4 separate regions of the Homo sapiens genome follow, and regions 2, 3 and 4 are each linked to region 1. The links come from fine-mapping of genetic effects on gene expression. A gene starts in region 1. Each other region holds a variant in brackets. All regions are shown on one strand. Distances are from middle to middle. Region 1 holds the start of ARHGAP5 (Rho GTPase activating protein 5). Region 2 has its middle 57 kb from the start of ARHGAP5-AS1. Region 3 holds the start of RNU6-7 (RNA, U6 small nuclear 7). Region 4 holds the start of LINC02313 (long intergenic non-protein coding RNA 2313).

Region 1 (5,151 bases):
GTTCAGGAGTAGATGTGCAGGTTTGTTTTAAAGGTAAACTCATGTCAAGGGGGTTTGTTGTTACCCAGGTATTAAGCCTAGTACCCATTAGTTATTTTTCTTATATTTAAATAATAAATATTTTTCTTATATTTAATTAAGTTAAATATTCTTATATTTAAATACAATACACTTAATACATGAAAATAGAAGCTGTCCTGGTTTGGGAGGGTGGGTTGTCATAGGAAGTCTCAAGGCATCTAGGAAAAAAACCCACAGGAATCCAAGGAACAGAGTTTGAAAACCAATTAAAGTTCATACTTAAAATTCTTAGCATTGAAGCATTTTTCTTAATTTCTAATATGGTTTTTCCTATTTCAATAAAATAATCGACAAAAGCCTGCACTTAAAACAAGAGCCTGATTACTCAAATTACTGAATGATGAATCTACTGATGTTTCTTCACAGGTCTTTTAGAAATTAAATTCCCTTGGTGTACTTTAAATATATAATACAAGTATCTTTTAGGAACATAGACATCACTAAAACAACACTGTACAATGCTTCTTCAGCCAATTATATTACTACACACCTTCTTGGTATGCAAAGAAAAAACTGTGGACCATACAACCCAAATAAATAGTTCTTAAAATAGTATCTATGGAAACTACAGTTGCGACAAAACTTATTCTGTAGCTACCAAGAAAATCTCTATTATGCCATTTCATATTTAAGAAGTGACCACTAAAGGCCAACACTCATCTTACATCCTGCCAATGTTGGTAAAGTTTAGTAAAGTCTTTATGAGACCTAACTTTTTCTTCAATTAAAAAAAGTGAGTTAGAAAACTTATTATCGCTACTTCAAATCCAAAAAAGGAATGCAAATACAATATTCATTCCTTAAATAATCTTAACTTTCAAGGTCAAAATAACTCTCCAAAAAAATGACTGTGCTAATATGCTTTTCAAACACAAATAAGAAGGGGAGACGGTTTTCAAAACATTTAGGATAAGTATCTTGTGACAGAATTAAGGTAATAATTTTGCAACACATTTTAAAAATTGCTAAGGTCGTTTAAATGGGGAGGGACACTACAAAACTCATAAAGATAACAGAATTCTGCCGCAATTCTTACATCAAAGTGTAACCCACCTCACTCCCCAGTACTCTTAATAATTAATGTACAAAGAATGGCAAAATAAGACATGTTGATCTAGGTTTAAAAACACAGCCTACACAAGACAACCAAATCAATAGTTATTTAATCATCTGTACCGTCTGATTCTGCTTTAAGTCAATTAGATCAATAGTGCTATTTCTTGAAAGTTACAAGCATAGGTATGCGCAGCCTTTCACTCCAGTGCGTTTAGTCATAAATTGCTCCAGTGTCTTTGCAAGTTTTTGGTGACACATACTTACCGCTCTTTGTACTACAGATAAAGGTAATGGAGGTCAATTAGTATACAAAGGATAGATGAAAGCAAAAAATGAGAAAGGAATTTAAAATGAAAGCAAAATCTTACTCAAGAAACTATCTAGTAGGTTACCTAGACGGTTAGTAATACTTATCTACAAACACTGAATAAGAATACCGTTTTATCGTATTACAGTACAAATAAACTAGAATTGACAGCAAAAGGTTTCATTAACGTATTTTTAAACCAAACATTATTCCAAATGTCTAATCGCTGCATCTAGATGAAATTTTTGTTAGGAGAACCATTTTAAGTGGAAATGTAGAGCAAGCTCCCATGAAGTGAACGAGATCCTTCATGCGGATAAACACCACCTAACATTCTAACTGAATACTGGTTCTGGATTTAAGTGGAATTGACAAACTCGCCCCCCGCCCCTACCTGTAGAAAGCAACATAAGCAAGTACTAGTAAATACAGCGAAGCATTTTGCTGTTTTACACCTGAACATTTAAAAAAAAATTCAGTTTCCTGCCTATCACAAAGGAAAAAATAAATGATCGATAAGAATTTAAACTTAAAACGTAAGCACAAACCCATCTATATGCCTATCTTGCTCTATCTCAAAATATTTGAATTCCCATTTATTAAGCGATGGCCAAATCCGAATTTCTATCACATGGTAGAAGTATAAGCGTCTCCCCTACAACTTTTTCGGGATTTTACTAAACGGCCTAATAACAGTTTGCCCTTACTTCCGTGCACCTTTCAACCTCAGCTACACCCCGAGCCTCCAGCTCTCTTGCATTTCTAATAACGCTGAAGAGGGAGGGTGAGAGGGAGTATTTCTGTGTGGATAAGTGCGCGCGCGCTCCCGCGCGGCTCCCCACCCCCACCCCGATACTTTTCTTTAGTGGAAAGAGAGGAAGAATCTGGAGGTTATTCTAGCGAAAACTCAGTATCAAAGCCTCAACCCAGTCGCAGTCAGCCCATAGGACTCTGGGCTCTGGATGCGCAGTGCAACTTCTCATATCTTACTCCAAGCTTCAAAGCAGATGGAAAATTGGTGAAGAGAACCCAGGGAGGAGTCGAGGAGATGAGGGAAAGTGAAAGGGCCGATCCCCCCTACAAGGCGTTTAAGTTTGCAACCGAGACTGTGTTTCCGCGAATCTGCACCCGCCCCGTGTACCCTTTCCAGGTGGAACTCGTTAACAGCAGCAACCCGGCCAACGGACACCGCCACCTCCCCTCTCGACGGACCACCCGAGACTCGAGCAAGTGAGGCGGCGGGCGAGAGCGGACGCCTGGCGGGGCCGGCGATCCCCGGCCAGCATCAGGCCTCCGCCGACCCTGGCCCCGTCACCTGTGGAGAAAGCACCCCCTCCCCCGGCCTCTCTGCCCTTCACGCCGAACGTATCCCTAACGCTGCAGCTGCTGCCCGCCCGGCCTGCGAAAACCGAGCGCAGCGCCAGGCTCCCCTCGGCGGCCGCGGGGCCCCAGCCCCTTCAACTGGTTACAACCGGCAGCGGCGACCGAGCGGGGCAGCTAGCCGCAGGAGGGTCCCCGTCCGGGAGGGGGCAGGCAGGCTTGGAGGAGCGGGGTCCGCAAGGTCCTACCTAACAACGTCGGTCTCCTCCGTCTCCTCCTCAACGGCAGCGGCCCCGGCGGTGGCGGCGGCAGCGACATTCCTGGGGACCGCTCCCGCCGCCGCCGCCTCCTCCTCCACTCTCCGCTCGCCTCTCTTCCTCGGCGCGCTCACCGAGCGGCGCGTCCCTTCAGCCACCTCCCCCCGCCCTCCCCGACACACACGCCCCGAAACCCTGAGCCCCACGGCTCCCGCAGCCAGCTCACCCACCCTCCCTCCCTCCCTCCCCGCCACCAGCGGCGGCCCGTCCCTCCCCCCTTCCCCAGCGCCCGCCGCCGCGCCGGGCTCAGTAATGGCGGCCACTCGGGCTCCCTCGCGCTGACGGATTTCTCTCCCTCTCTCCCGAACTTTACCTCAGCATCTCTCCCGGCGCGCGCAGCCACACACCCGACCGGGGGCGGAGCGGCGGCGCGGCGGCGCAGCCTGGACGGGACGCGCGCGCGCGCGCGAACCCGCGCTGCCCTCCCCACAATCCCCCGTCCCCGCCCCTTCACCTCGCGACGCCTCCCGCGCCGCGCACCCGGCACGGCCCCGCCCCTGCCCTCGTCTCCCGGGAGCCTGGGAAGGCGCGAGCTATCCAGTCGGAGGGAGGGGGACGAGCGCGCGGGGCCGCGTCCTCGCTCGCGTCCCCGCTCCCTCCTCCCCTCTGCTTCTCCCTCCCCTCCACTCCCCCATTGGCTTCTACCCCTCCCCCTTCTTCCTCCGCCTCTCCCACCATTGGTTCCCTCCCCTACTCCATTCCTTCTCACCTTTTCCCTTTTACCCATTGGCGTGAGTATTTTTCCTCAGCTTCCCTCTTTCTCCGTATTCTGCTCCTCCTCAGTCCCATCCTCCACGCTTTGGAAGCTACTGCCTTACTGCCCGGAGCGCCGTCGTCCCCGAACCTCCCCTGCTTCTCCCTTTCCTTCTGTTCCGGTTTCTGGTCGTAACTCAAGAGCAAACCACCGTACTGCAAAGGAACCAGATATTGTGCTCGCGGTTCCAAACCGGGCATGGGCACCGAATGCTTCTCGATAAATCCCCTTATGGTCTCTGAGCATTAAAGAAAGCAAGGGAGGAAAACATGCGCCCAAGCTCGTTCGCAGGAACATGTTCGCGTGTCTGCGCCTGTGTGCGCAGCCAGTTTTCTGGCTGAGGATCGCTCGCCAACTACAGACATCACCCGCCCAGGACCCGGTGCCACACTCACCCAGAAGACGAAACTCCACAGGAGCGAGAAGAGGAGTCCATTTCTCCGTCGGCTCGGCACGGCACGGGGATGCAGGCCCCTGATTCAGTACGTTCTGTGAAAGTGGAGCGAGAAGCCAAGACGTGGATCGAGAAGCCCCGTGGGGCGGGTCTCAGGGTGGCCCAAAAGACCCCTGTTCACGCCACTACCAGCCTAACTTTAGGAACTGTCGTCCACCTGGCTTTTATTATACTGCCTTAAACATATTCACTTTTTTGAGACTCTAGAAATTTCACAAGTTTTGGGGTAGAGCACACTGGGCTTTGGGTGTGTTTCTCATGAGGGCACTGACGCTGAATGGTGCAGTGAGAAAGGACGGTAGAAACCACTGCCTTTGCTTTTACCATTGAAGAAACTGAGGTCCTGTGACTTTCCCGAGGTCATCGGAATCTGCCTTGCACAGGAGACTTAAAATAGTTGCCAGCAGATAAAAGAATGAGCAAAACCACATCTACTCCAATTTGTTAAGTCTGAAAGAAAGTAATTGAGGGGGGATTCCTCTTTGGGGAAATATTTATTTCCTGCATTGAAAATAGTTTAATGTTAGTAAACATATAAAAAGTATTTTAAATTCAAGTTATTCTTTATTTCTTATGTTACATAAGGTACTGAAGTTAGCCAAGGTTGCTTTTGTGTTATAATGATGCAGCTGCTGCCAACCAGAAGTACATTTACGGTCTGTCAGTAAAGAAAACAAAAACTGCCTGTTGGTAAAAATCTATTAGAAAATATTTGTCAGTAAATTTGTCACAATATTCCAGCAGAAGTTCTGTTCGTTTTTCCGTCTTCCTGCCCTTCATATTTCTCAAAGGTAGACTTAATAAAGGTAGAAGAGACATTTCTAATTTTTCTATATATCTCTTGCTCCCTAATTTCTAAAAG
Region 2 (5,151 bases), 58 kb after region 1:
TATACGTATATATACACATATATACATATATACATATATATACATATATACACACATATATATACATATATATGAAAAATATATATATAATATATATTTTTTTGTGAGACAAGGTCTCACTCTGTCACCCAAGATAGGGTATGGTGGCATGCTCACAGCTCACTGCAGTCTCCACCTCCTGGGCTCAGGTGATCCTCCACCTCAGCCTCCCAAGTAGCTGGGACTACAGTGTGAGCCACCACGCCCAGCTAATTTTTACTTTTTGTAGAGATGAGGTCTCACTATGTTGCCCAGGCTGGTCTCAAACTCCTGGATTCATGTGATCCTTCCGCCTCAGCCTCCTAAAGTGCTGGGGTAATAGGCGTGAGCCACTGCACTCAGCCATCTTGTCCTTATTAAGCCAGGGTTTAAGCCCTGCCTTCTCTGGTTCTAGCTGCTCTGTTGGCTTTGTTCACCATGTACTGCTTCCTCCTCTAGTAGAGATGAGATGCTCCCTCCTAAGAGGCTCAGACTGATTTTCTTTAATCTGTCCTGGGAGCATTCTTAAATAGACTGTGGGCCTAATAGCAGCCTCATGTGTGGAAATCAGGACTTAATGGGGGGAGGGTGTGTAATTAAGCCCTCGTCCTACTTCAACTGAGCAGGATCTAGTTCTGCAGGCCTTCCTGGCTCCCATAGGGCTGGCTGCAGTATGTAAACATCTTATGGGAGGCAGGGGTCCCAATCTGGCTGCTACTGGGATCTCTCTGAGAGAGGAGAAAGAAAGAAACTGGTCAAGAAGGGAGTTAGGGTGAGTCCTCAGTTGAATTCTTTCAAACAAAAGAACAGCCTGAAAACTCAAGCTGCAGGCACAGATAAGGGAACGTGCACAGGGTGGGGGGCTTACCTAAGATATGTCCACAGCTGCACAGATAAGAAAGGCTACACAGGTGACTTGCCCAGACATGCCCGCAATGGAAAAATCCTGTCCTCTAGCACATGCTCAGTAAAGGGAACAAAGCAGTATGGAGTAACTCAAGCTAAGGGCCCACATGCGCACTAGAATGACAGGGTGGAGCTACCAGAAATCTGTGCCTTATGCAAATGAGACACCCAGCCCTCAACAGTTTCTTGTAAAAGCCTTTACATTGAACTGTAAAAGCAGCAACCTTCTTCCGGGCTCTATCGCTGAGGCGGAGAGCTTTCTTCTTTCACTTATGAAACTTTTGCTCCAACCTCACCCTTTGTGTCCACGCTCCTTAATTCTCTTGGTTGTGAGACAAAGAACTCCGGGTGATACCTCACAATGAGAGACTGCTAAATTGTTGTGCATTGGCGAGACTATAACATCTTCAACCTCCAGGTGCCATAGCACAGAGGCTCTGCTGGGAATCCAAGGCCACCATGTGAGGGTATGGAGGGGAGGATTGAGTGGCCCCTAAGGATCCCAAGTGCTTTCTTGCCAAGATCACAGCAAAGCTGCTCCACCTGTGCCCCCCAGTGCACTTCTGTTTCTTCTGGCAAAGTTTGTTCTCCATGCTTCTTTGTTTTCCAGATCATATCTGGGCAGACTGTTCTAAAAAATGTTGAAGACAATGATATTGTAGAATGACAGAGGAAGGAAGAATTATAAAAGTAGAAACTCTGGGACTCCCTTTTCTTTAGAAAATTGGCTTCTTGTTGGGTGCCTTACTTTTCTGTTTCTATATCCAACTTAGATGATAAGCCCCTAAGGATTTCTGTGGTTCTGTTCCTCACTGAAACCACTACAAAATTACAGTAAAAAATAAGGATAATGAAAAGAGGATCACTTCATAGCCTTCCTCGGTTCTGGAATTAAATCCAGCTCAGGTCAGGAATGAGCCATGAGATCCAGTAGTTTTCACCCATTATCAGACTTCAATAAAATTATTTTCAGTATTTCCAATGTAGACCTGTAGATGGTTTTCTATCATATAAAATTCAGAATGACAAAGAAGGTTATCTAGAGAAATTTAGAAGAAAGAAAGATACATTCACCTATTGCCTGAATCAGTTTTTATTTTTTAAGCATATCAATGTATTTATTATTTAGCTAAACACCCACATGATGTCGCATGTAAGGATCAGCACATTGCCATGGGCCCCATTCTCAGAAGAGAATGGACCCTTCTGGGGTCCAAGCTGACATGAATAATTTAGGTTATTAGGGTGCTGGTTAATGAATTGTCCCAATGTTTGGGCACCCTATGTCCCTGCTAACTCCCTGGCAGGGCTTCCTTGAGAGAACAGTTTAACTCAATGT[A/G]CTTAATAGATATATTTCCATGTACTATGAGATGACTCAGGGCTGGACAGTAACCTGGGTTTTTAGAACAATAAGAAAGAAAAATGGAAGCTCGTCGGTGGCTTTTCCAGCCCACAGTGTTAGCCTTGCCTAAGCCCTCTCTCCAGCTAAACAACCGTTTTCCCCCCAGTGCTTCCTGAGTCCTTATTCCTTTTACTGAGAAGCCAGAAAAAGAGGTCAGCGCAAACGGGTGCTGAAAAGAAAAAAATCCTGGCTCTCTTTTAACCAAGAAAAGCAGAGCCTTTCTGAATTCTGGCTCTGACACAGAAAAGCCCTGTCTCTAAGTCCCTGCTCGTGATGATTGCCTGGGGACTTGTCAGAAAAGTATTCTGGCTGATATTAACTGCCACGATCACGTATCCCGGGAGAAACACTTTCAAAGAACCCAGAGCCAGCTTTTTGGAAGCAAGTAGGCCAAGCAGCCTACTATACATCAAGTTTAAGTGAGAACATTTCTGTAAAAAGACTTTAAGACCTGCAAAGTCTTAGGTGTGTGCCTCGTACTGTGCCCAGCCCTCGAGCACTGAATGTAGAAGAAAACTCAGAAGACACGCTTCCTACCCTCCTCACTCCCTCCTAGAGCTTAGATTCTGGGAGACAGACAGGATCATTCTGTGCAAAATAATTAAACAATTAAATGTTTGACTGTGTGGCTGTAAGTAGAGTTATGCCAGGTGGCCATGAGAGACCACTGGGACTGAACTTGTCAAGAGATGGTTTGTGGAGAAGCCACAACCCCCATGGCTGGTGTTCTGTCAGGGAGATCACAAATTGGAAAGGATCAAGATGGGGCAACTTGTTTTATACACAAGGGATATCCATGTGGGTCAGGAATGCAATCAGACAACTTGTGTTGGTTTGACTCAAATTTTGAACTTAGTTCAAGATATGATTTATAGCTTCAAACACTTACCTACAAACACAAAGACACCAACAAAACAATTTGATTATTTAAAATAAACAATTGAGAGCTGGTTTAACTATAGCATGTGGGCTCATAAGAACTAATACGTTTGAGGTTCTTTTCACTATGAAGATGACAAGTCAGGACTTTAGTTTTCAGGAAACAAACATTTATAGCTTTGGTCACCTTCTTGCTAGAGAAACAATAGGAGGAGGGGCTGAATTCATTCCATCCATGTCTTTCACTTTGTCTCGATTTCTAAAGTAGTGAATGAGTTTTTAAGCAGCAGTTGCTGAATTCTTCTTTGCTTTGTCCTGACATGCAGACAATCTAAGAGGAAAATCAAGTCAGGGAAGTATTTAGAGAAGAATGCTGATGCCTGCAATTTGCTTTGAAATCGATAAAAAGATGGATTATTGGGTAAAGGGATGGATAGATATGTAGATATGTGACAAAGCAAGTATAGTAACATATTAATGATACATATAAGGCTGTGCATGTAAAATTATTTTAATTTCCAAATTTACTACAAAAAATATCATAATACTATGGTGGGAAAAAACTGAATCAGGGTTTTCTTTGTGTTGCCCTTTCTTCTAATAGTTAAAAATCATTATCTGAAAGGACACATAAATAAAAAAGCTTGGACTAAGTCCTAGACATAAATGAAAAGTAATAATTGTGTGTGTTATGTGTTTAAAGAACCCTCAAATCTATCTCTACTAGCCAACTGTTGATGCTAGGTATTCTGCTATTAGAAACACAGTCTTTTGAGCTAAGGGCTTATTCTGTAAAAACCTCTTGGAATTCTTGGAGAACTACCAGATTAAATTCAATTCGTCATTAATACTCTACTGCAAATCAATTTAAGTGATCACTTCAAAGTAATACAGAGCTAAAAGGTTTGGAATAAAGGAGAGGGAGAAAGAGAACATAAGCACCAAATGTCTTAGGGGAGGAAAGGGAGATGCTGAAAGATGATCTGTAGAGGCATTAAAGATCAACTTCACCTTCTTTACAGGGTTACTCTGGGCCAAACTAAATCCTGATATTAGTGTTTGCTGCTCTTGAATTCTATATTTAGAATTTCTGAAGCTCCAGTGAAGGTGTCCTATGGCACTTTAAGAAGGCTGTTGAACTGCCTTTCTGTAGTTCTTGCTGCTTGATACTAAGGACTGAAGCCCAAATCTTACTCCACAGGGGATGCTGTGGACCATGGGCTGTTTATCTGTGGTTAGGTTTAAACTTTGACTTACTTTCCCTCTATGGAGGGGAATATTTTCTTTTCTTTTCTCCCTCTGTTTTTTTTTTTTTTTTTTTTTTTTTTTGAGACAGAGTCTTGCCCTGTTGCCCAGGCTAGAGAGCAATGCTGTGACCACAGCTCCCTGCAGCCTTGATTTCCCTGGCTTAAGCAAACCTGCAGCTTCAGCCTCCTGAGTAGCTGGGACTACAGGCATGTGCCACCACACCTGGTTAATTTTTTAATTTACTGTAGAGGTGGGGTCTCACTATGTTGCCTAGGCTGGTCTCGATCTCCTAGGCTCCAGCAATCCTCCTGTCTTGGCCTCCCAAAGTGCTGGGATTACAGGTGTGAGCCACTGCGCCTGGCCCATATTTTCATTTTTTACATTACTCTATTTTTCTTTCTTTAGAGACATTTTTTCCTTAGCTGGTTTCTTCAGAAAGTAGAGTCTGAGGCAAGGGTTTACGTGCCACGATTTTGTTAGGGAGCATACATTAAGGATCGGGAGAGAAGGATAAATAACGTGAGACAGAAAAGGAGATAAAACCAATACAGGTACAAGGAAGTGTATTGAACTGGCTACCACTAAGGACAACGGATTGTTTGATATCACAGAGTTATCTTCAATGAAGCCATGTAAAAAATGTCTCAGGAATGTCTCTTTCGGTGAGAAAACGGGAAGAATTTATCCCCTGCTCCCAT
Region 3 (5,151 bases), 120 kb before region 1:
CAGCTAATTGGGAAGCCGAGGCAGGAGAATCACTTGAACCTGGGAGGCGGAGGTTGAAGTGAGCCGAGATCGCACCACTGCACTCCAGCCTGGTTGCCAGAGTGAGACTCCGTCTCAAAAAAAAAAAGACTCATCGTTCTCAAATGAGTCAAATCATACAAAATATTATTTAATTAAATAGCCACCTACCTCATAACTTTCCTATAAGGATGTGATAAAGAACACTATTTCCTCCTAAAAAAAAACGTGATTGGAAATTCATATATGCTTAACCACGGGTACTAACACTAGAGTTGTTTTTGTCAAAATGCAAATACGGCATCTTAAATATTTTTGAGTTTAGCAGAAGCCAATAATGTTTTAATGTTGCAAGTGTGCAGTGTGAAGACATGCTAAACTCACAAATGTTTAAGATCTCATATTTGCATTTGGCAAAAACAACTTTAATCTAGCCTAATAAAAGTAATTTGTTAGAACGAGTAACCAAACAACTATGGAAAGCACCTGCTCATGGGATCAAATGATCCAGAGACTCAAATGACATCAACACTCTTTCCTAATTTCTTTCCCTGATCCTATTATTCTCTCAATTCTCTTCCATGGGATACAGAACTTGGCCACCACAGGCCAGGGGTTAAATCCTTATAACTCACAAGTAAACTTATAACTCACAAACTCACAATGTTTGTTTATAAACATTGGTTAATGGGTACAAAGATACAATTAAAGAAGAGGGAAAAAATTCTGATGCTCTATTGCACGGTAGGGTGAAAATGGTTAACAGTAAAATTTTGTATACCACAAAATAGAAGAGAGGCTACTGAATGTTCTCACCACAGAGAAAGGATAAATGCATGAGGTGGTGGATACACTACCTTGATTGGATCGTTATACAACATAGATATGTATCGAAACATCAAATTGCACCCCATAAATATGTACAATTACAACGTGTCCTCAAAACAAAACAAAAAGCAAGCAAACCACCAGACCAGACCTTCTACTTGGCTTGTTCATGGGTGTATCCTAAAATCATTAAAGGAAAGATTTCTGGGAGACTTTATAGTGTGAGGGGTCAGACGGCTGACCGCACCTGCACCCACAGGTCAGGGGTAGGCATCACTCACACGGGGACAGCCAGCGGATACACTACTCTTGCTGAGGTGCAGTAAGCACACACCCTACCACTGTGTTTGAAGCCGTGCGGGCGTCAAAACAAAACACAACACAACCAGAATCTAATGAGTCCATTACCCCTAACCATAAATTTTCAAGAAACATGGAGGCTAGAGAAACAAGTTAAACGACACCATCAGTAAGTAATGGGCCAAATCCCAAGATCTGCGACAATCCACAGGGCAAATATCCCTCAGTATACGAATGACGTGAAGAAAAACGAGGCGAGGGCAATTAGAGGACAATAGACACCCAGGGTCGTAGCAACCGAATACAACCTGGGACCTTGTTTGGATCTCTATGACAATTCGACTGTAATAAGGAATTTCTGAAATAAGGAAATTTGAAAGTAGACTGAATATTAGGTGCCATGAAGGAATTACCTTAACTTTTCTAGGTGTGATAATGGTCGGTTAATTACTTTTTTAAAAAAAATTACTCATCAGAGGAAGTTAATGGTGAAACGACCTGTTCTAAAGGTGCGCGCCGACCCCGGGCCGGCCCTCTCGGTGCCGCAGCAGCCTCGTTATCGGGGCGTCTCCAGCTCGCCTGGGCGCTGGACCCCGCCGCGCGCTCAGAGGCGGCCGCAGCATTGGCAGCTCCCGGCATGCTCCGCGGGCTGAGCTCCGCGGCACGAGAACTCAAAGCCCCCGGCCTGGGTCCTACGCGGGGCCCTTTACCCAGGGTGCCCCGGGCGCTCATTTGCATGTCCCACCCAACAGGTAAACCTGACAGGTCATCGCGGCCAGGTACGACCTGGCGGTCAGAGCACCAAACATACGAGCCTTGTGATGAGTTCCGTTGCATGAAATTCTCCCAAAGGCTCCAAGATGGACAGGAAAGGGCGCGGTTCGGTCACCGTAAGTAGAA[T/C]AGGTGAAAGACTCCCGTGCCTTATAAGGCCTGTGGGTGACTTCTTCTCAACGTGCTCGCTTCGGCAGCACATATACTAAAATTGGAACGATACAGAGAAGATTAGCATGGCCCCTGCGCAAGGATGACACGCAAATTCGTGAAGCGTTCCATATTTTGCGCAGTCTGTCAAGATCATTTCAGTATCTGCTAATTAGTACTAAGGAAACAGTGTGAATCTAAGCGAAAACGTGTGGCACCCAATGACGAAACAGTGGTTTTCATTACAAAAAATTTGTGAAATCTATGAAGTGGGAACGAAGCAGAGTCACCCGAGGAATGTTGTGTGCGAATAGATCGTTAATACGCATTTTGGAAATGGAAAAAGGTCACCTTGTGCCTTCTTCATTGAACTTTTCATTCTGAAATAGACTTACGGTCTTGTCTCACCAAACAACACAAACTCCAGAGCCCCAGCTTGTTTGGCTTTTGTTCAGTAGAAGACCAACTGGCATATGAATTGTTCAATAAATCCTTACTAAATCTTTCCTAACCTAATAAATCTCTACTAAAGGAAGGAAACATTAGCGCTCATTTCTTGCGCCTACTTTGTGCCATTCTCCATCATCTTAGACCTGAGTGCTTACACCCTTTCTCTTAGACTGCGAGCTGCACAAAGGAAAGGAATGTTACTAAGGGCTGGTATTATTGGAAATCAATGTTGGCCTTTGCCTATAGATTCAAGAGCTCCAGGACCCATGTGAATACTGGCCACAAGTAGCAAGCCCATCTGGATCTGTTTTCACGAGTCTTCTGTTTTCATGTATCCTCTAAGAAGTACTTAGAAAGGGCCGATTTACATAAATCGGACAGATTCTGTGATGGGAAATTTGATTAGGAGGAATGTTCATTGCCCAGCCTGAAAGCATATTTTAATCAATGAAAACAAGTATTTGGACGCAGATACGAGGATCACCTAGGTAACTTAATAGTAACGTAACTAGGCGCCTCGAAGATGGAGGCTGTCGAGGAAGTGTGCCCACTGTGCGACAGGACTGGTGGGAGGCCCGGACAGCATCGTAGGTGTCTACTGGGCCAAGCTCGCGAGCAGGAAAATGCAGGCCCCGAGAGATCTTGAACAACCTCTAGGAACACCACCGTATCTTGCCCAACGACCTTCGTTGAACCGCGCAAAATATGGAACGCTTCACGAATTTGCGTGTCATCCTTGCGCAGGGGCCATGCTAATCTTCTCTGTATCGTTCCAATTTTAGTATATGTGCTGCCGAAGCGAGCACGCAAATAAGTCCGTCCCCAGGTCTTATAAGGCACGGGAGTTTCTCATTTGTTTTCCTTACGGTAACCTAATCGAGCGCTTTCCTGTCCATCTTGGAGCCTTTAGGAGAATTTCATGTAACGGAACTCATCACAAGGCTCGTAAGATTGGTGCTCTGACCGCCAGGCCGTATCTGGCCGCGACCGATCTGTCAGGTTTACCTGTTGGGTGGGACATGCAAATGAGCGCCCGGGGCACCCTGGGTAAGGGACCCCGCGTGGGACCCAGGCCCCGGGGCTTTGATTTCTCGTGCCGCGGACTTCAGTCCGCAGAGCATGCCGGGAGTCTGGCAGTCCGTGCGGCAGCAGTGGAGCGCAGAGGACAGGGCCGGCCTGGAGCGCTTGGCGTCTCCCCGAAGTCTCTCTGAGAGCTGGGGAGGCGGTTGGCCCGCTAGGTCACTAGGTCGGGCAGGGGTCTTCCCCCAAACATGGAAGTTTTCACCGATATTTCGCCGGTGACATTGGGGCCTTGTGCCAACAGACTTTGCTGAAGTGAACCCAAAGTTCAACCCTCCGGGAGAGTCCTTGCAACGATTCGGCCACTCAGTTCTGGAGCCGTCGGCACTACATTCTAAGTTGCGGTGGACTCCACTGGCATCTGCGTGACTATCTCCGGCCGGTGTGCATAGGCGCCCGTCGGGTCGGGGGCTGAGGACCTTGGACAGGGCGGCCACACCCCTCTCGTACAGCAGCGCCTCTGTCCATTCTGCGCAGGCGCCTCTGGGGTCAGGGACGGAGGAACCCGGGCGAGTAGCCACGCCCCTTCACAGGTGTCTTCCCTCGACCGCTACTTTCGCCCCTGGCAGCCAAACACAGGAACGCTGAAAAACAGGCTGAGAGGTGGATTTGAGGAATTACATCGTTCACTTAGAGTTGAACTGGAGAAGCATTCTTGTACGTCCTTATACCTCCCTGCACTCTCATCCTAACCCTGTTAGGATACAAAAGTACGGGACAGACCTACTCGTAAGAAATACTGTTAGTGTTAAATATTCTGATTTTTAACTACAGCAAAAATCGTACTGTTCAAGTCATATCCCTGAGCGTTGTGAGATGAGGGCCAAAGATCAAAGCCTCTGGTATTTATTTGGTTACAGTATTTCATATATTGAAGAAAGTAAAGGGCAAATGTTTGCCTGTGTTGCGTTAAAACGGCACGTTGAATGAGGAATATGGCACATTTACCAATAACTGGAGTTTTGCTTTTTCTCCTTCCTGTGGTCGTTTTACCCCTTCCTGTAACAATATTTTGAAGTAAGAACCTACTAAAAATCAGTAATTGAGAAAAATTTTAATTGGTATCCAATTTTCTGATGTACCAAAAGAAAATAGTGTGAAATCATATACGAGTTTCTGGTATTGCTGAGCCAAAAACAGAAAGAGGAACAGAAAGTTAAGCCCACAGGAATTATTGCTAACCCTATGTTTTTCTGTGTTTGAGGTTATAATTCTTTTCTTTCACAGCTTTTGAAAAGTAATAGAAACACTGTTCTTTCCCCCTCAAAAAAATTAGGCAAAAACGACATTCCTGTTGAGTTAAATTTTCCAATTACAAATAAAATGTGCTTTGATATATTTCTTCTAACGCCCTGTCTTTCCAATAAGCTATTTCTGCTTTGTGACTTCAAAGCTAGGAAGCAGTAAATTGATGTTCAATTTTATGATTGTAGAAGTATATCAAAATTCTTTCATGTTCTCTCTTAAAAACCTTACAACTAATCAGTTTATTAAAGGATACATGGTTAGAAGAATCTATAGTTAGAAGGACGATCAGAGTTACAGGGTCATGAA
Region 4 (5,151 bases), 130 kb after region 1:
AGTCCCAGCCTACTACCATTCATTGAATGCCTTCACTGAGTGCGTCAGGCACTGTGCTAAGAAAAGACATGTATCACTTCACTTTATCTTCACAGGAGTTTACTACGTAGGTATTACCCACATTTTGCAAATGAAGAAACCACAGCTTAGAGATTAAGTAACTTGCTTAAGATCACATTGCAAAAGTGGGGATTTGAACTCAGGCTTGACTGATTCCAAAATGTGTAGTTCCAATAATTATAGCCCACTGCCTTATCAGTATACTTGAGAACACAGTAGGCATTCAATACTTGAGAACACAGTAGCCATTCAATACTTGTATGTTTAGTGAATTTAATTGGAGAGAGGTCAGCATGCTGCTGGAAGAGCACAATGACTGTCACCCTGGTCCTGTCACAAACCTCACACTGCTCTGGAGTCCTTTGACAGGGGTAGGCACCAGAAGTATCAGCGTCATTCCTGCTTGCAGCTTTCGAAAGAAACTCCATCCTGGTTCTACTGTTAGGCCCAACTACAGCTTCCCCTCACTCTCTTCCTCAATCCATTTCAGACACCCATTTCTCTCCAACAAAAACCCGGCGCTGAACTCATCTCTATAGATGGTGAAGTCAGGAAAGAGAGTGGGAGTGGCTATGAAAACCTCTCAGATTCTGACCTCAGATGCACAGACATGAGGGAACAAGCCCTGCAGACCTGACTAAACCTGGTTAACCTTTTGTGCTGTCCAAAGCACCGATGGTAAAGAACGCCAGAGGGATTCTCAGATGCTGAGAACAGATTCCAAGAGCTCTGAGAGGCATGGAAGGAGGGGCCATGTGCTGCCGGGAGAAGTGAGGACCTTTGTGATCAGTCCTACGTCAGGGGCAGACGGCCCCAGTACTTAGGTCTATCCAGGCTGGCACTGTCCACGTGTGGCCATTGAAATGTGGCTGGTGTGAATTGAGATGTGCTGTAAGTGTAAAACACATGTACGATTCCAAAGACTTAGCATGAAAAAGGAATGCCAAATATCTCATTAATCATTTTTTATGTTGATGACTGTTAAAATAAGATTTTGGAGGGTTAAGTTAAATAATATAGATTATTAAAATTAATCTCACCTGTTTCTAGTTTTTTCAATGTGGTTATAATATATGAAGTTACATAAGTGACTCACCCTTGTGCCCTGTATTATATTCTCACTGGACAGAGCTGATCTGTAGCCCCAGACTGTTTCAGACCATGCCTTACCCCACCAACCAGGGTCCAGCTGCTGGGGCTCAGCTCTATCCTAGCTTGGGTCTCTGCACAGTGGCAGCTTTGGTGACCAATATACTCTGTAACTGCTGTAATTTAGGGGTGTCCCTGACTCTGAAGCCAACTGCAGAGGTTGAGAATAAGAAATAACTACATTTTCATGCATTCACTCACATTTCTCCTCCCAACCCACCACTCTAACTGTCTTTCTTTTAGCACAACTGTTGTAAATACATGATCCCCAGAACAGCAGCATCGCATCACCTGGGAACTCATTAGAAATGCAGATTACCAGGTACCATCCAGAAACTCTGAATCAGAAACTGTGCCCAGCAATCTATGCTTTAACAAGACCCTCCCCACGAGGACATTATTCTGATGAATTCTAATGTTTGAGAACCAGGGTCTTAGGGCACTGTTTCTGAAACTTTGTAGTGTATTAAAATCATGTGGGGTGCTTTAAAAAATTCCAATGCCCAGGCCACACCCCAGGTCAAGTAAATCAGGTTCTGTGGGGGTAGAACCCAGGCATCGGATGGATGTTTGGAAAACTCTCCACTGATTCCAATGTGCAGTCACAGTTGAGCCCCATTGCCTAAGGGTAAAGAACTCAAGAATATTAGTCGGCCATTTTCCCTATGGTGGAGAGCCTGTAGCTTTGAGCCCCGTAGAGAGAAGCCTTCCTGTGGGAGGAGAAAACAGTGTGTAAAATGAAGAAAGGGGCCAAACTGGGCATGCCTAAGCTTCGAAGGCCTCTTTCATTATAGGCTAGCTGCTGTAATGAAACAGGCAATTGCACCTGAGATTTTTCTGAAGTTGAAATGACCACGTGGAAAGGGAACAGCTTCTCTCCACAGTCCATCAAGAGGGGAGTGGCCAATGGGCCGCTTGGAGGACAAAGACCAGGGACACGCCCATTATCTGAGGCTTCAGGTATATTAAAATGAAGAAATCCCCAAATAGGGTTTCAAAAATTGTGATATACTATATTTTAGAAGTTTACATTTAATAAATTAAGGCTTTAACACGTGTAAGCTTTAAAAAAAAAACGCACAGGGTAATATAACCATCCTATTCACGGGATAATGGCAGGATTAATCTTAAAAATTCATGGGCCTGGTACCAAAATCAGGCATAAGTTTAAAGCTGATGATCATTTCCATCTTTTCAGTCTTATTAGCATATCTTCAGAGATAAATTTTTAAAAATCCAAATGTGAAGTCTCTGTGAGTGTGAGATCCCTGGATGAAAGGCCCTCCTTTGCCATGCCCCTGGGGCAGACTAAGAGGACCGCTGGAAAGAGATCCTAAGTGTGGCCCTGGAGCAGCTGTGAATGATTAGGTTGTGGGAAGACAACTGACATCTGGGTGCCTTGCGGCAGCCTGACCAGGGAGGTGGTGTCAGGGAAGCCAGAGCACCCCCCTTCCTCAGTGTGTTCCAGAGCAGTACAATACCTGCCTCCCTACACATAATGGATGCCTGCCCACCACCCTCTGTCCTCAGGCACACTTGGCTGCTGACAACAGGAAGTGAAACAGCCACACCCTCCTTTGACCCTATTAAGGTAACTCCTAGTTTGATACAGAGGCTTCCGGGGAGGGAAAGAAATAAGGGAGACACTTACCTTGTGCAGCACCTGCAGTGCTGTTGGTTTATAAAAGCACGAAATCTTCTGTCCCAGAGGCTGGACTGGGCTCATGACTGCATGTGAGATTGTGCTTTGGGAAGAGAAAGCAATCCCAGACTGAACAACAATTTTCTGGTGGCAGGTGCATCCATGAGGAGCTGCAGTC[G/T]GTCCCAGCAGCATATGCTTTCTCCTCTGGGAGGGCAACTCGGAGACGTGCAGACTAACGGGACCACTGGCTGCAAGCCTCAGAAACCTCTCAGGAGGTCCCTGGCAAGGCCTGTGGTATCTGGGCAGTGCAGGCAGCCTGGGCACCATAGGACAAAGGGGCGGGGAGTGGGGCAGGGAAGAAACAGCACAGAGGAAACAGCACACCTTGTTCTCATTGACTCGGAGTCAATGGCTGCCCACAGACTCTATTTCCTGGAGATTCAAGCCTCACACTGTCCTGTCCTCTCCCCTGAGTAAGTCTTCCAGAGAGTAAGAGCCACACCCAGGCAGAGGTGGGTGAGGCTGGGGTTCAAAGTACAGAGCCAGCCCTTTTATCTCATAGGCAGAGGAAATCATCCACTGTAAACCCACAGCGTCCTCCACCAGGGCAGCGTTTGATTCCTCCGTCTCATATCTCCGCTTGCCTTCCCTGTGGGTCAGTAGTTCCTGAGTTTCTCTAGCCTATAGAAAACATGAGGAGGAGGAGGAGAGATGGAGGGGGAGGAGGAGGAGAAGAGAAGGGAAGAATGAGCACATGGACTGCCCAGCCCCAGCCCCATGGCACCAGCATGGTAAACACTTGGAGGGAGGCCAGCCGTCTGGCGCCTCCAGTCTTCCACATCACCCCAGCCAAGATTCAGACCTGTATATTCTGGGCTCTTTCTGCCCCATTTCACCCAGGCTTTAAATTACCCAGACTTGGGTCTGGGTTATTCTATCCAAAACTTTCCTCTGAAATCTAGATTGTGATGCAATGTATACGTTCTCTAAATCAGATTTCTGAGGACTAAATGCCAGACCGCGTGGCGTAGCAGTCTGGCTGCAAACCATTTCCGTCAGCCCAGCGGAGGAACGCACAACAAGGTGCTCATCCCCGCAGCCGTGCACAGGAGACAGCAACGGTCCAGGTAAATTAGAAAGGCCTAACTTGAGCCAGCTAGTCATGGCAATTTAGGGAAAGTAAGGACTACACAGAGGCTCTGGGACGGCTTGCGGAATCAATGCCTAAGTTGCTGGATTGCTCCTTCTTTGGCTATGGAGCTAGTGGTTCCAAAATCTACCCCTTGATTCCTTAAGATGGAAGACCATTTAGACAAGCTGAGCCAAAACCCAGAGTCTTGGAACAAGCCTGTAACAATAATAGCAGCAGTAATGACAATGATTTTTAATATTCCTTGCTTAACAAGTGCTGGCCACAGTTCATGTTTTACATGGATTTACTTGGGGAATTTGATCGCTGGATCGAGGTGAGGACCATCCTCACTCCTCAGCTCCCCGGAGGACAGTCCCTTCCCCTCTGCTAGTCCTTTGACACAGACCCATTTTGACTTTTCAACTTCAACATTCTAGTTCAAGTCTTGGCCAGCTGTCAGCCTGGGCTTGTTTCTTCTCATCACAAGAAAAGAAACAGGGCTGCGAAGAGTAGCAAGCCCCTGACTGCTGCCCTTAAATGAGCTAGCCTTTAGGAGAAACACCCGAAGGTCAGGAGGCAAGCACTGTTTGCTCATGGCTATTGTTCCTCTGGGGAGCTGTGAGGGTGGGGTGAGTGGGGGAGGGTCTCTCATTTTGTGACTACACAGTATATAAAAAGCTGAAATGAAAATAATTCAGAAATTATTGTTGTCTTTATAAAACAACCTGTTCTGGGGTACCTTTCTGTACTTCCCTAAGTATATTTAAAACACAATTTTAAAATTCAATTTAACAAAGCCCCATCAAGACACATGCACTGCATCGTGCACATCTGTATAAATGCTCTTAAAGTGCAGGTTTGCATGAACCTTATTTTTCTAGAGGAGTGTGTCCTCTTGGGGAAAGAGGGAAAGAAGGCAGTAAAAATAGCATCGTGTCGCTGCTGACTGTGCATTGGCCACACAGCTAAGCACAGAGTGCCTAGAGAGCTTTGGCAGGATCATCACATGTTGTCCTCACAACAGACCCATGAGGGAGGTATCTCATCCCAATTTACAGATGAAGAAACTGAGGCTCAGGAAGATCAAGTGACGTCTTCATTATCACACAGCCATTAAGAGCTGAGCTTGGTGGGAACTCAGGCTTCCGCGACTCTAAAGACTAGAACT

Evidence for each region.
Region 2: its variant is fine-mapped to the expression of ARHGAP5 in whole blood (INTERVAL, PIP 0.98).
Region 3: its variant is fine-mapped to the expression of ARHGAP5 in whole blood (INTERVAL, PIP 0.98).
Region 4: its variant is fine-mapped to the expression of ARHGAP5 in whole blood (INTERVAL, PIP above 0.99).

Annotation. Positions count from the first base shown.
Region 1 is chr14:32,075,297-32,080,447 of GRCh38, reverse strand. It overlaps ARHGAP5 (Rho GTPase activating protein 5), which reads right to left and starts at 3,144. Exons shown (of 7, transcript NM_001030055.2): 1 at 3,013-3,144. It overlaps ARHGAP5-AS1 (ARHGAP5 antisense RNA 1 (head to head)), which reads left to right and starts at 3,749. Exons shown (of 1, transcript NR_027263.1): 1 at 3,749-5,029. RefSeq lists silencers at 2,791-3,085, 2,884-3,103, 3,464-3,723.
Region 2 is chr14:32,016,893-32,022,043 of GRCh38, reverse strand. No RefSeq gene overlaps it. Among named protein-coding and RNA genes, the nearest start is that of ARHGAP5-AS1, 57 kb to the left of the region's middle. RefSeq lists an enhancer at 572-1,771. The variant A/G (reference allele first, on the strand shown) is at 2,264.
Region 3 is chr14:32,200,217-32,205,367 of GRCh38, reverse strand. RNU6-7 (RNA, U6 small nuclear 7) reads right to left here and starts at 3,323; the gene lies at 3,217-3,323. RNU6-8 (RNA, U6 small nuclear 8) reads left to right here and starts at 2,099; the gene lies at 2,099-2,205. RefSeq lists enhancers at 1,384-1,928, 1,929-2,474, 3,572-3,631, 3,712-3,771 and a silencer at 2,115-2,294. The variant T/C (reference allele first, on the strand shown) is at 2,047.
Region 4 is chr14:31,942,818-31,947,968 of GRCh38, reverse strand. LINC02313 (long intergenic non-protein coding RNA 2313) reads right to left here and starts at 3,116. Exons shown (of 2, transcript NR_146544.1): 1 at 2,861-3,116. RefSeq lists an enhancer at 2,635-3,834. The variant G/T (reference allele first, on the strand shown) is at 3,030.